Homo sapiens: one gene and its partners. The protein of the gene in region 2 purifies or fractionates together with the protein of the main gene of each other region. This does not show direct contact. Each region holds a gene or a part of one and is shown on either strand. Other genes may lie near its edges. The genes, in order: RLF, CNKSR2 and RALA.

Region 1 (3,835 bases), on a different chromosome or scaffold from region 2:
AAAATTCTTCTGGGCCATCACATCTCTGGTGTCACCAAGACTCAAGACATTAAAACATTACCTTAAACAAAACTGCAGTTGCAAGCACTAGACATAAAGCAGAATACATATATATGTGATCCTTTGACAAGCTTCAATGTGACTGGTTACATTCATTCTTGTCATCTTTCCAGGGAGACAACTCAAGCTTAGAAGCCTTACCCAAAACCCACAGTTGTTTTCCTGCACCACCCCTCTCCTTCCATTAGTTTCCCCTCCTCCCATAGCATTCTGGGTCCTTACCAATCTCTACCTTTGGCACTGGGATGCTTTCCCCACCCCAGACCTTCACGTGACTCATTTTCATCCTTGCAGCCCATAGGGTCTTACTAACTAAAGTGGCCTCTCCCAGTTACTTCTTTCTAAGCACATACTACAATTTATAATTAACCTTTTTACTTATTTTTCTAGTTAATTGTCTTTCCCATCAGGATATCCCATGAAGGCTCTCTCCTCACCATTGTCTCTACAACACCTCCTTTTCCATCATTACCAAAACCGCACTGGAAATACTGTCATTCCTACCACCTCCCACCAACTGTAAGTTCATCAAGGCTAAGTGCTGTCTTACTCATGTTTCCCCAGCACTTGGTAAAGTCCCTGGCACTATCCTATGAAGTCAGTAAAAATCTGTAAAATAAATGAGCTTACTAAACAGGGATGACTACTACTAAGGAAGCAGAGAACAACAACACGTTAACATTTAATAGTACAGGGCAATGTTGCAGGTTGTACACACAAAAATTGGAGTGGTACAATCCACGGAAAAGATTAGTAAGGACAAAATTCCATTCAGAGAGATGAGGTGCTTCTGCCTCGGCAGAGAGAGGGAAGAAAAGCAATCAAGCAAGCTAACTTTTATTCTACTCCGGACCAACAGAGCAAATTGCCCCCCAAAATTATTATTTTAGAACGCCGCAATTTATTCAGCATACTGGACTACTTATTAGACTCCAAGTACCAACATGCCACGATTATTTTGCATTTTCTAAGGTACAACAGATAAGGAGCTGATGGGTGCCTCTGAAACCTGACAGAACAAACATTGGAAGCAGAAATAATAATGGCCAATATTTGTATTTGTAAAAGACTTGAAAACATACAGAAAAATCTCGGAGTGGTCATGGAGACTAAACTAAACACACCCATAAATATGTAATCATAGGTTAGGACCCACCAAGGCACAGAAATGATCATACGACTGCCAAAAGAGGCCACACTCTACATCCCTCTTCCCATCCTCTTCTACTCAAAGAGTCAGCCTTATTCTCGGTAGCACAATCCTCTCAAAGAAATACAGAAAAGACGAAAGAACGGCTTAAACGTAAAAAAAAAAAAAGCAAAAACCAAACAACCAACCGGCTCCGCAATCCCTAATCAGAAAGCTCTAGACGCCTTTCGAAGCCAACTGTCATACCTTTTAGGAGCCCAGAAGATGTTAACTCCAAAAATAAGTCTCTGGCCCCAACACACCTCTCTGGATTATTCAGAAAAACCCGGGTTTACCAGTTCGGAGATCTGCACTCCACTCAAAAAAGGATCTCCCGGCAGGGACAAGCAATCAATCCCTCAGGGGGCAGTGGCGCTCCAACCACCCGGCCAGGACACAGGCAACGGCGACAGGGCACAGCCCTTCCAGGGACCCGCCAGGGCCCTCCGGGATCTCAGTAAGGCTCAGAGCAAAACGACCCAGCGGTGGCCAAAGTCGGGCAGTGGCGCAGGGGGGCCAGCGGTCGAGCTTCCGAGCTGGGCCTTCCCGGCCCGGGGGCGCGGCGAGTCACGGAGGTGGCGCCTTTCAGTTTGGACCCGGCTGCTTACAGAGGATCCAGGGCCTCCTTCCCTGACTTCCCCGCCCCGCCGCCCTCAGCCAGCCAGTCAGCCCCTCACCTGGCAGAAGCTCCGGCAGTAGTTCAAAGATGAGACCTCCGACACCTCTTGCTCCCTCAGCTCTGTCTCCAGCTGCCACAGACACGGCCGCAGTCCCGAGGCTCCCGGCGCTGGAGATACGGGGCGATGACCCCGAACCATGGACTCAGTCTCGACTCCATCTCCGGCTCCCGCTACCGCCGGAGCCTCAGCCCCAGCCCCGGCGACAGCGGCGGCGTCTCCCTTTCCGTCCGCCATCTTCCCACGGCCCACCAGCGCGTAGGCAACCAAGCCACGTGACTCAGCCCTGGCCCTGCCCCCGGCCGCCCGCGCACTGTGACGCACTCCTTAGCGACGCGGGCGCCCGCCTGATTCCGTCACTCGGACTCCGGGTGCTCTCAGTGGCCTACGCATCGCCAGTCCTGACAACAGCCTAGCAACAACTGGCTAGAGGCTATGCCCACCTAGACCCCTTTGAGGTCATGGGATCACGGAGCCAGAAATGCCTGTAGAGCAATCTAGATTTGAGGGGGATGACATTTGAACTGCGATCTGAAGGGACAAGAGGAAGGTAGCCCTGAAAGGAACATAGCGAAAAGCATCCCTGGTAGAAGGAAAATAAGCAAAGATTGTGAGGCCGAAATGAAGAGTAACATCAAGGGAACTTGGTTTATGATACAGACGGCATTACAAGTCAGTGGGCGAAAGGACAGACTCTTCAATAAATGGCGATGAGACATTTTTTCCAAAAGGGAAATAAATGATTAGATTTCTACCTCAAACCATTTCCAAAAATAAGGCCGAGATGGATTAAAGACCTGCAAACATTTTTCAGAAAATAAAAATAGCTTTATAATGTCAAAAATAGGGAAGAATTTTTTTTTTTTTTTTTAGACGGAGTCTCACCCTTGTTGCCCAGGCTGGAGTGCAACAGTGCTATCTCAGCTCACCGCAACCTCCGCCTCCTTGGTTCAAACATTCTCCTGCCTCAGCTTCCGGAGCAGCTGGGATTACATGCATGCGCCACCATACCTGGCTAATTTTGTATTTTTAGTAGAGATGGGGTTTCTCCATGTTGGTCAGGCTGGTCTCGAACTCCTGACCTCAGGTGATCCGCCCGCCTCAGCCTCCCAAAGTGCTGGGATTAGAGGCGTGAGCCACCGCGCCCGGCTAAGAATTTCTTAATAAGACCGGAAAAGCACAAACCATAAGGGAAAATATTTAGATTTGACTGTATTAAAATGTGTTACTTCCGTATAACAAGTTGAAAAAGCACACAAAGACAAGCCACAGACTAAATGATATTCCCCATATATATAACCATTGTTTATTGTTGTTGTTTTTTGAGACAGGGTCTCACTCTGTCACCCAGCCTGGAGTGCAGTGGCACGATCTAGGCTCACTGCAACCTCTGCCTCTCAGGTTTAAGTGATTCTCGTGCTTCAGCCTCCCAAAGTAGCTGGCACTATAAGCGTCCGCCACCATGCCTGGCTAATGTTTGTATTTTTAGTAGAGGCGGGGTTTCACTGTGTTGGCCAGGCTGATCTCGAACTCCTGGCCTCAAGTGATCCGCCCGCCTTGGCCTTCCAAAGTGCTGGGATTACAGGCGTGAGCCACCGCGCCCAGCCATAACCATTGTTTTGATTAGTATCCAAAACAGTTCCCGGGCTGGGCGAGGTGGCTCACGCCTGTAATCCCAGCACTTTGGGAGGCCGAGGCGGGCAGATCACGAGGTCAGGAGATCAGGACTATCCTGGCTAACACGGTGAAACCCTGTCTCTACTAAAAATACAAAAAATTAGCCGGGCGTGGTGGCGGGCGCCTGTAGTCCCAGCTACTCGGGAGGCTGAGGCAGGAGAATGGCGTGAACCTGAGAGGCAGGGGTTGCAGTGAGCCGAGATCGCGCCACTGCATTCCAGCCTGGGTGACA
Region 2 (3,500 bases):
AAAGAAATGGGGCCTGAAAGACAGTGCAAGGCCACTTTCAGTGAAGCAGATCTGACTGAAATAGCACGAAACATCCCACAATATTGAACCATAAAGACAAAAAGTACAATACCAAATTTACTGACACACTTACTAGGTCTGTTCTATCTTATAACAATTATTCTACAGAGAGCCCACTGAAAAAGATGGAAAGCACTGAATAACTACCCACTAAACTCATCTGAAATGTAAAGAAAAAACCCAACCAACTTAGGAGTGCATCTATTTGGCTAAAAAATCCAATCCACTAAACAACAAAAAAGATAATCTAGAAGAAAAAAATTGAAAGCTATCTAACTAGAAGTGCTCTGTGGACTACTGGAAACCTGAAGAATGAGCAAGCATGGTGCCATATTTTCCCTTCATGTCTTAGGACACGCTTGCTTCTTTCTACTCTTCCCTTATTCAATGACCAGGATGAACTGTTAAGTGCCTAGCTTATTCAAAACAAGACAACATTAGTGACTTAACCTGTAGGAATGATGAAATGTTTTCTGAACAGAATTCTCTATTTCAGAGGGCTGTGCCTAATTTCAACACAGTTTATCTTAAAATGGCTGAGATAAAGTGTTTTCTCCAATGTTTGTAAAAGAATAAACCTCACATACTTAGTCACAGCAGTTGTGTAGTACCTGAATGACAGTTGAAATGAAGTTTCTAACTCATCTTTAAATTTTAGAAGACAATTTATTAATTTTAGTAATCTTTAGAATATTAAACATTATTATTATGCTTGCCAGAATTCCTGCAGAGGACTAACATGGCTCCTAAATATTTCTTCCATAAACTCTGATAGATGTGAATGTTGAAAGGGCTTGGCAAGTAATGAATGGTAATTACTTTTCCTGTACTAACAACGTACCTTTTATAATGTTTCTCATGGAGATTATGGCTAAAATATACTTCACATGGAAACTGCCACAGCATATGAATTTTATTACAAGCAATTCTTATATTTTGTTGGTAGATGAGATAATATTAAATAATGCAATGAAGATCCACACCATAAAGGGAGGTCCACTGTATTTTCTTGTCAGTCATTTCCAAAGAGACTACCATTTTAAATGAGCCAAGCTTGACACTGACATGGGGCTCTTGACCTGTTGGTAATCTGTGAACTTTGAGATATTTTTCCATTTGTGATGAAGAACTTACACTAATATATTCTGTAATCAAAGTCCCATATATTTGTAAAATGGGCTGAAGGCTACACTCTGCTTTCATCTTTTTAAAAAGAGAAGTCTATTGCCCTAGGGGTACCAAACAAGTAACTGTGATTTCATCACCATTTGCTCAAGTTATCTGCGCTAATTGGCCCAGACTGCATTTTGAATAAAGAGATGTGAACAGTTTTATACTATTTCTTCTATATATTTTGTTTTGTGCATTTTATGTTCAGGACTTGTAGCCAAACCTAGATTTTCTTTCTTACTAAAATAACTGAGTTACAGCCTTTCCCTTAAACCAGCCTGGGTTTCTGGACTGATGTGTCATGTTAGTAATAAACAGAGGCTTGGTATGGCATGTTGAATAAAGAACTTAATAACTAGTAAAGATATTCTTAATGTCAACAAGGCAGAGGATTACTTCATTGACTTTTCTTATAAGAGTTGATTCACATAAATTGAGCTTTACGATCAACACACATACCAAGAAATTAGATGGATGCTTTTGGAAAATTGGTTTCTAGAAACAAATTCAGCTATTTGGAGTTGAAAGAAATGCTATGTGAAATCTCTCCTTGGAAAAACTATCTTTTGGATTTTTCCTTTAAATCTTCTGACAATAAAAAGGGAAGATAAATATGTATATGTATAGATGTGAGTGGGTGTGTGTGTATACTCAGTTATTCAACCAAGGCTCTGCTAACAACCTGCTTGAAACATTTATAGTTTCTTAACCCAACTCAGGGGGCAACCACTGTGGGCCAGTGAGATGGTGCATGCAAGTGAGAATAAAGTGGATAAGAGAAGGAAGAAAACAAAAACACCATTAACCTTAAAAGGCAAATGGCTAGTTGGAGAAAAAAATTATTTGCTCCAGCTGTGGGTATCTTGAGATTATAAGCTTCATTACTCATCATGTTTTCCCAAGTTACTGAAGTTCTGAAAGTAGGTCACCAAGGGAGACCTAACTTACTATATAGCAATACTATTATTTTAAGAAAAAAGGGAAGCAAGGTTCTATTTTCTTCAAATAAGAAGTTTGAAAAGGTCAGGACTTTGTGTACACAGGCTAAGAATCTCCAGAAACATACTTACTTTTTTCTCCTATGTTTTCCCCTGCTGCCTCCCCTTCCTCCTCCTCCTCCTCCTCCTCTTCCTCCACCTCTGGGGGTTGCACGTCATCCTGTGGGTCACAGGCACTAACTGGAGCATTCAGACAGCAATGGTTGAACCCGCTATCTCGAGGCAGAGTAAAACTTCGAGGCTTGCCCCCATTTCCATTTAGCACTTGCATCCTCTCACTCTCAGCTAAGGGGTATGGCCCATAGTGATCCTGCAGGTGGCATTTCTGAGTTGGCAGGGTAGACTGCCGCCTGTGCTCTGGGGAGATGGCCGCGGAGTCAGAGAAGACAGAATCCTCCAGGGGCAGAGTCTGAAGATAGTGTAAGCCTGAACTTGTCAGTGGCGTCTCAATTAAATCCTGCCAGGAGCGGCGCTGACTGGCTGTCTTGCGAATGGGAGACACTGCACTGCTCCCAGTTACTTCCTGGCGAAACTCCTCATGAGAAGACTGAGACTGAGAAGTCTCCGTGGAGGAAAGTCGGCTATGTTTTGCTTCCACATAAGGACTGGCGCAACTCATCTGTAGAAAGGAGCCCCTGATTAGTCTGTGCCAAAATAACAGACCACTTCCATTCCAAGGAACACATTCGGTTTCTACCAGGTAATATTTAAGTAGATGAACTCTTACGTAGTCATGTTAATGACTAGGCAAGTTTGCAGACATCTCAAAGTTAGGCCCCAGCTTACATTTTAAGAGACAGAGACATGGATGTATTGGAATGCGGCTATACCAAGGTCTCATGAAAAATCTGACATATTAATGCAAAATTTTACAACAATGCAAGTATAAGAGTTAGTGCTTACATAAGAAAATTCAGCAACTACAAAAATTTCACTTTAAAAACTATACATTTTCAGATCCTGAAGAAGTATTGTCCCTGGATTCATATTCCTGATTTCATGTAGCTTGGGCTTGGGGACTAGGAGAGAGTCTTTTGGATATGAGGATAGGCTGCCTATAAACAGAAAGAACCCTTCCTTTTCTTCATAGGAGAATGTCTGCTCCTATGGGTGCCAGAGAAAAGCTGTCTGATGGTCTTACTTTCTATGGGGTTAAAAATGTTAGGCAGGATGAGACTATACATTGCTAGGGATTACCATTAGCCTTGAGCATAGATACTGCAGGGCACATAAATATAAAAGAAAAATGGAAAATTTTTATCCCTGGAATTT
Region 3 (2,759 bases), on a different chromosome or scaffold from region 2:
GGGGCAAAAACCCATGGCTTTTATGTCATCATTGTGTTCCGTTCTGTTGCATACTTTGTGTGTGGGTGTGTGTTTTATACTTTTTTCCCTTTAACCGTTTATGCTCCTTCATGTTGGTCCTATGTCCGTTTGACTCAGCCCATTCATCTTTGATAGTTTCGTTGCTTTCTGACTTAAATTTTATGCTTCTTGCTGCAGATCAGGAATCAGCCATTCATCTAAGGAACTCAGGTTCTGTTTAGGAGGAATGATATTTAGCAGCCACAGCATAGTTACATAATTTGCTTGTTGCTATTGTGTTGTCATTTTTCAGTGAATAGTTCTAGGAAATAGGTATTATTAAAAGAAAAAAATGTGATCATGTTGTTATTTCCAATTCAAATTTAACATTACAAATGTTTACATCTTTGATTTTGTACTTGTATCTTTTCTCTTACACTGAAGATCTTGGTTCCTAAATTACATTAACATAATTCCTCCCTTGCATTAATAAAATAGTTCCAAAAGAGCAACATTGCTGTCACAAACAAACTACAAAATGAAGTTTGGCTGGGTGTTGTGGCTCACATCTGTAATTCCAGCACATTTAGAGGCTGAGACAGGTAGATCACCTGAGGTCAGGAGTTCGAGACCAGCCTGGCCAACATGGCAAAACCCCGTCTCTACTAAAAATACAAAAATTAGCCAGACATGGTGGTGCCTGTCTGTAATCCCAGCTACTTGGAAGGCTGAGGCAGGAGAATCTCTTGAACCCGGGAGGCAGAGGTTGCAGTGAGCTGAGATCACGCCATCCCACTCCAGCCTGGGCAACAGAGACTCTCTCAAAAAAAAAAAAAAAAAAAGAAGTTTAAGATTTGTCTTTGTTTTGTTTTGTTGGAATTTTGTTTCTATTTTTATCCTTAGCATCTATTCTAAAATAGATACTTTCTATGCTGTCTTATAGACCTTTGAAATAATTCCTCTAGTCAGTCTTACTTGTTTGTGTCTTGTTTGTTTGTTTTTTGAAATGGAGTCTCACTCTGTTGCCCAGGCTGGAGTTCAGTGGCACGATCTCAGCTCACCGCAACCTCCGCCTCCTGAATTCAAGTGATCTGCCTCAGCCTCTCGAGTAGCTGGGATTACAGGCATACGCCACCACACCTGGCTAATTTTTGTATTTTTAGTAGAGATGGGATTTCTCTATGTTGGCCAGGCTGGTCTTGAACTCCTGACCTCAGGTGATCCGCCCACCTCAGCCTCCCAAAGTACTGGGACTACAGGCATGAACCACCACGCCTGGCCAGTCTTAATTTATTTTAATTTGATTTTCAATTTTTAGGATTTGCTATTTTGTTTTATTTTTTATTTTTATTTTTTTGAGACTGAGTCTTGCTCTGTCGCCCAGGCTGGAGTGCAGTGGCACAATCTCGGCTCAGTGCAACCTCCACCTCCTGGGTTCAAGCAATTCTTGTGCCTCAGCCTTCCCAGTAGCTGGGATTACAAGTGCCCGCCACCACACCCAGCTAATTTTTGTATTTTTTGTAGAGACGAGGTTTCACCATGTTGGCCAGGGTAGTCTAGAACTCCTGACCTCAGGTGATCTGCCCGCCTCGGCCTCCCAGAGTGCTGAGATTACAGGTGTGAGTCACCATGCCTGGCCTAATTTTATTTTTGAATACGTAAAACACCTATGTCTCTAAAGTAGAAATTCTATAACAAGATACACTCAGAGATGCCTCACTCTTCCTTGTACCCTCCTCCCTTCTTCAAAATGAAATTGATTATTAGGGTTTGGTTTATTATTTCATTGTTCTTTGTGCAAGGGCGAACAAATCCATGTATACTCCTGCCCTACACACACACACAGGTAGCGCTCCATCTGCTATTCTGTGCCTTGCTTTTTTCAGACGCGTTAGGAAAGGCCACATCAGTCATGACATACACAGGCTTCTTTACTCACAGCACTCATTGTCGCTTTCATATTTCTTGCTTTAGTCTGAGTTTTTTAATTCTATAAGTAAAAACATTTTTTAAATCCAGAATTCAAAAGTGATCATAAAAGTTATTCCTCCTTTTATCATATACTCTCAGCCGTTTATGTGGAGTAGGAGTGTGAGTGTGTAGCCTTCCAGACCCTTCTGTGTTACAGAACAGAGGAATTTCTTATTGAAATTTAACTTTGAATTGTTATACTCGTAATTTTCTTAGTTACTATGCTAATATCTCATTATTTACCGGTTCCTAGACATCAGACAAAAACTGATAAATTCTCAAATACAGAGTAACAGACAAAGTTGTTTCATAGTGTCTGGTATCAAGATGATAAAGCATACACCCATCTTCCTCAGCTTCATTTCTAAAAATGGAACTGAGGAAACCAAGTTATGAAATATAATCAAATTATTAAATATAAATTTAAGCATATATTATTAAATATAAATTAATAAAATACATTTATTGATTATAAACTACTTAAATATAATCCATTGAGTTCTATCTTTGGGTCTGTCATCACCTTATAGAACTTTTTAGACTTTTGTCTCGAAAACTGGAACAGAAAGATCAGGTTTTATTACATATGAACATTTTTACCATAAAGTGTAATTCAGAAAACTTCCTAGTTTCCTCCTTTTTTCAAGATACTAGGAAAATCAGGCTTTAGTTTTATGCTTTCCGCTCTGTACTCCCAAACAAGAGCTCTTAAATATTTATACTTCTGTTACCCCCAAAGTTTACTGCTGTGATTTGGAGAAGTACCAAGTTCATGTATCTGTTTGCTT

What was found.
Region 1: the proteins of CNKSR2 (region 2) and RLF purify together in Homo sapiens (affinity purification with western blotting, with the first as the bait; one study listed by BioGRID). This does not show direct contact.
Region 3: the proteins of CNKSR2 (region 2) and RALA purify together in Homo sapiens (affinity purification with western blotting, with the first as the bait; one study listed by BioGRID). This does not show direct contact.

Annotation. Positions count from the first base shown.
Region 1 is NC_000001.11:40,159,728-40,163,562, reverse strand, and holds the start of RLF (zinc finger protein Rlf), read right to left. Parts: upstream 2,177-3,835; 5' UTR 2,164-2,176; coding exon 1,927-2,163; intron 1-1,926. UniProt on the Homo sapiens protein: May be involved in transcriptional regulation.
Region 2 is NC_000023.11:21,608,418-21,611,917, reverse strand, and holds part of CNKSR2 (connector enhancer of kinase suppressor of ras 2), read right to left. Parts: intron 2,848-3,500; coding exon 2,301-2,847; intron 1-2,300.
Region 3 is NC_000007.14:39,703,337-39,706,095, forward strand, and holds part of RALA (ras-related protein Ral-A precursor), read left to right. Parts: intron 1-2,759. UniProt on the Homo sapiens protein: Multifunctional GTPase involved in a variety of cellular processes including gene expression, cell migration, cell proliferation, oncogenic transformation and membrane trafficking.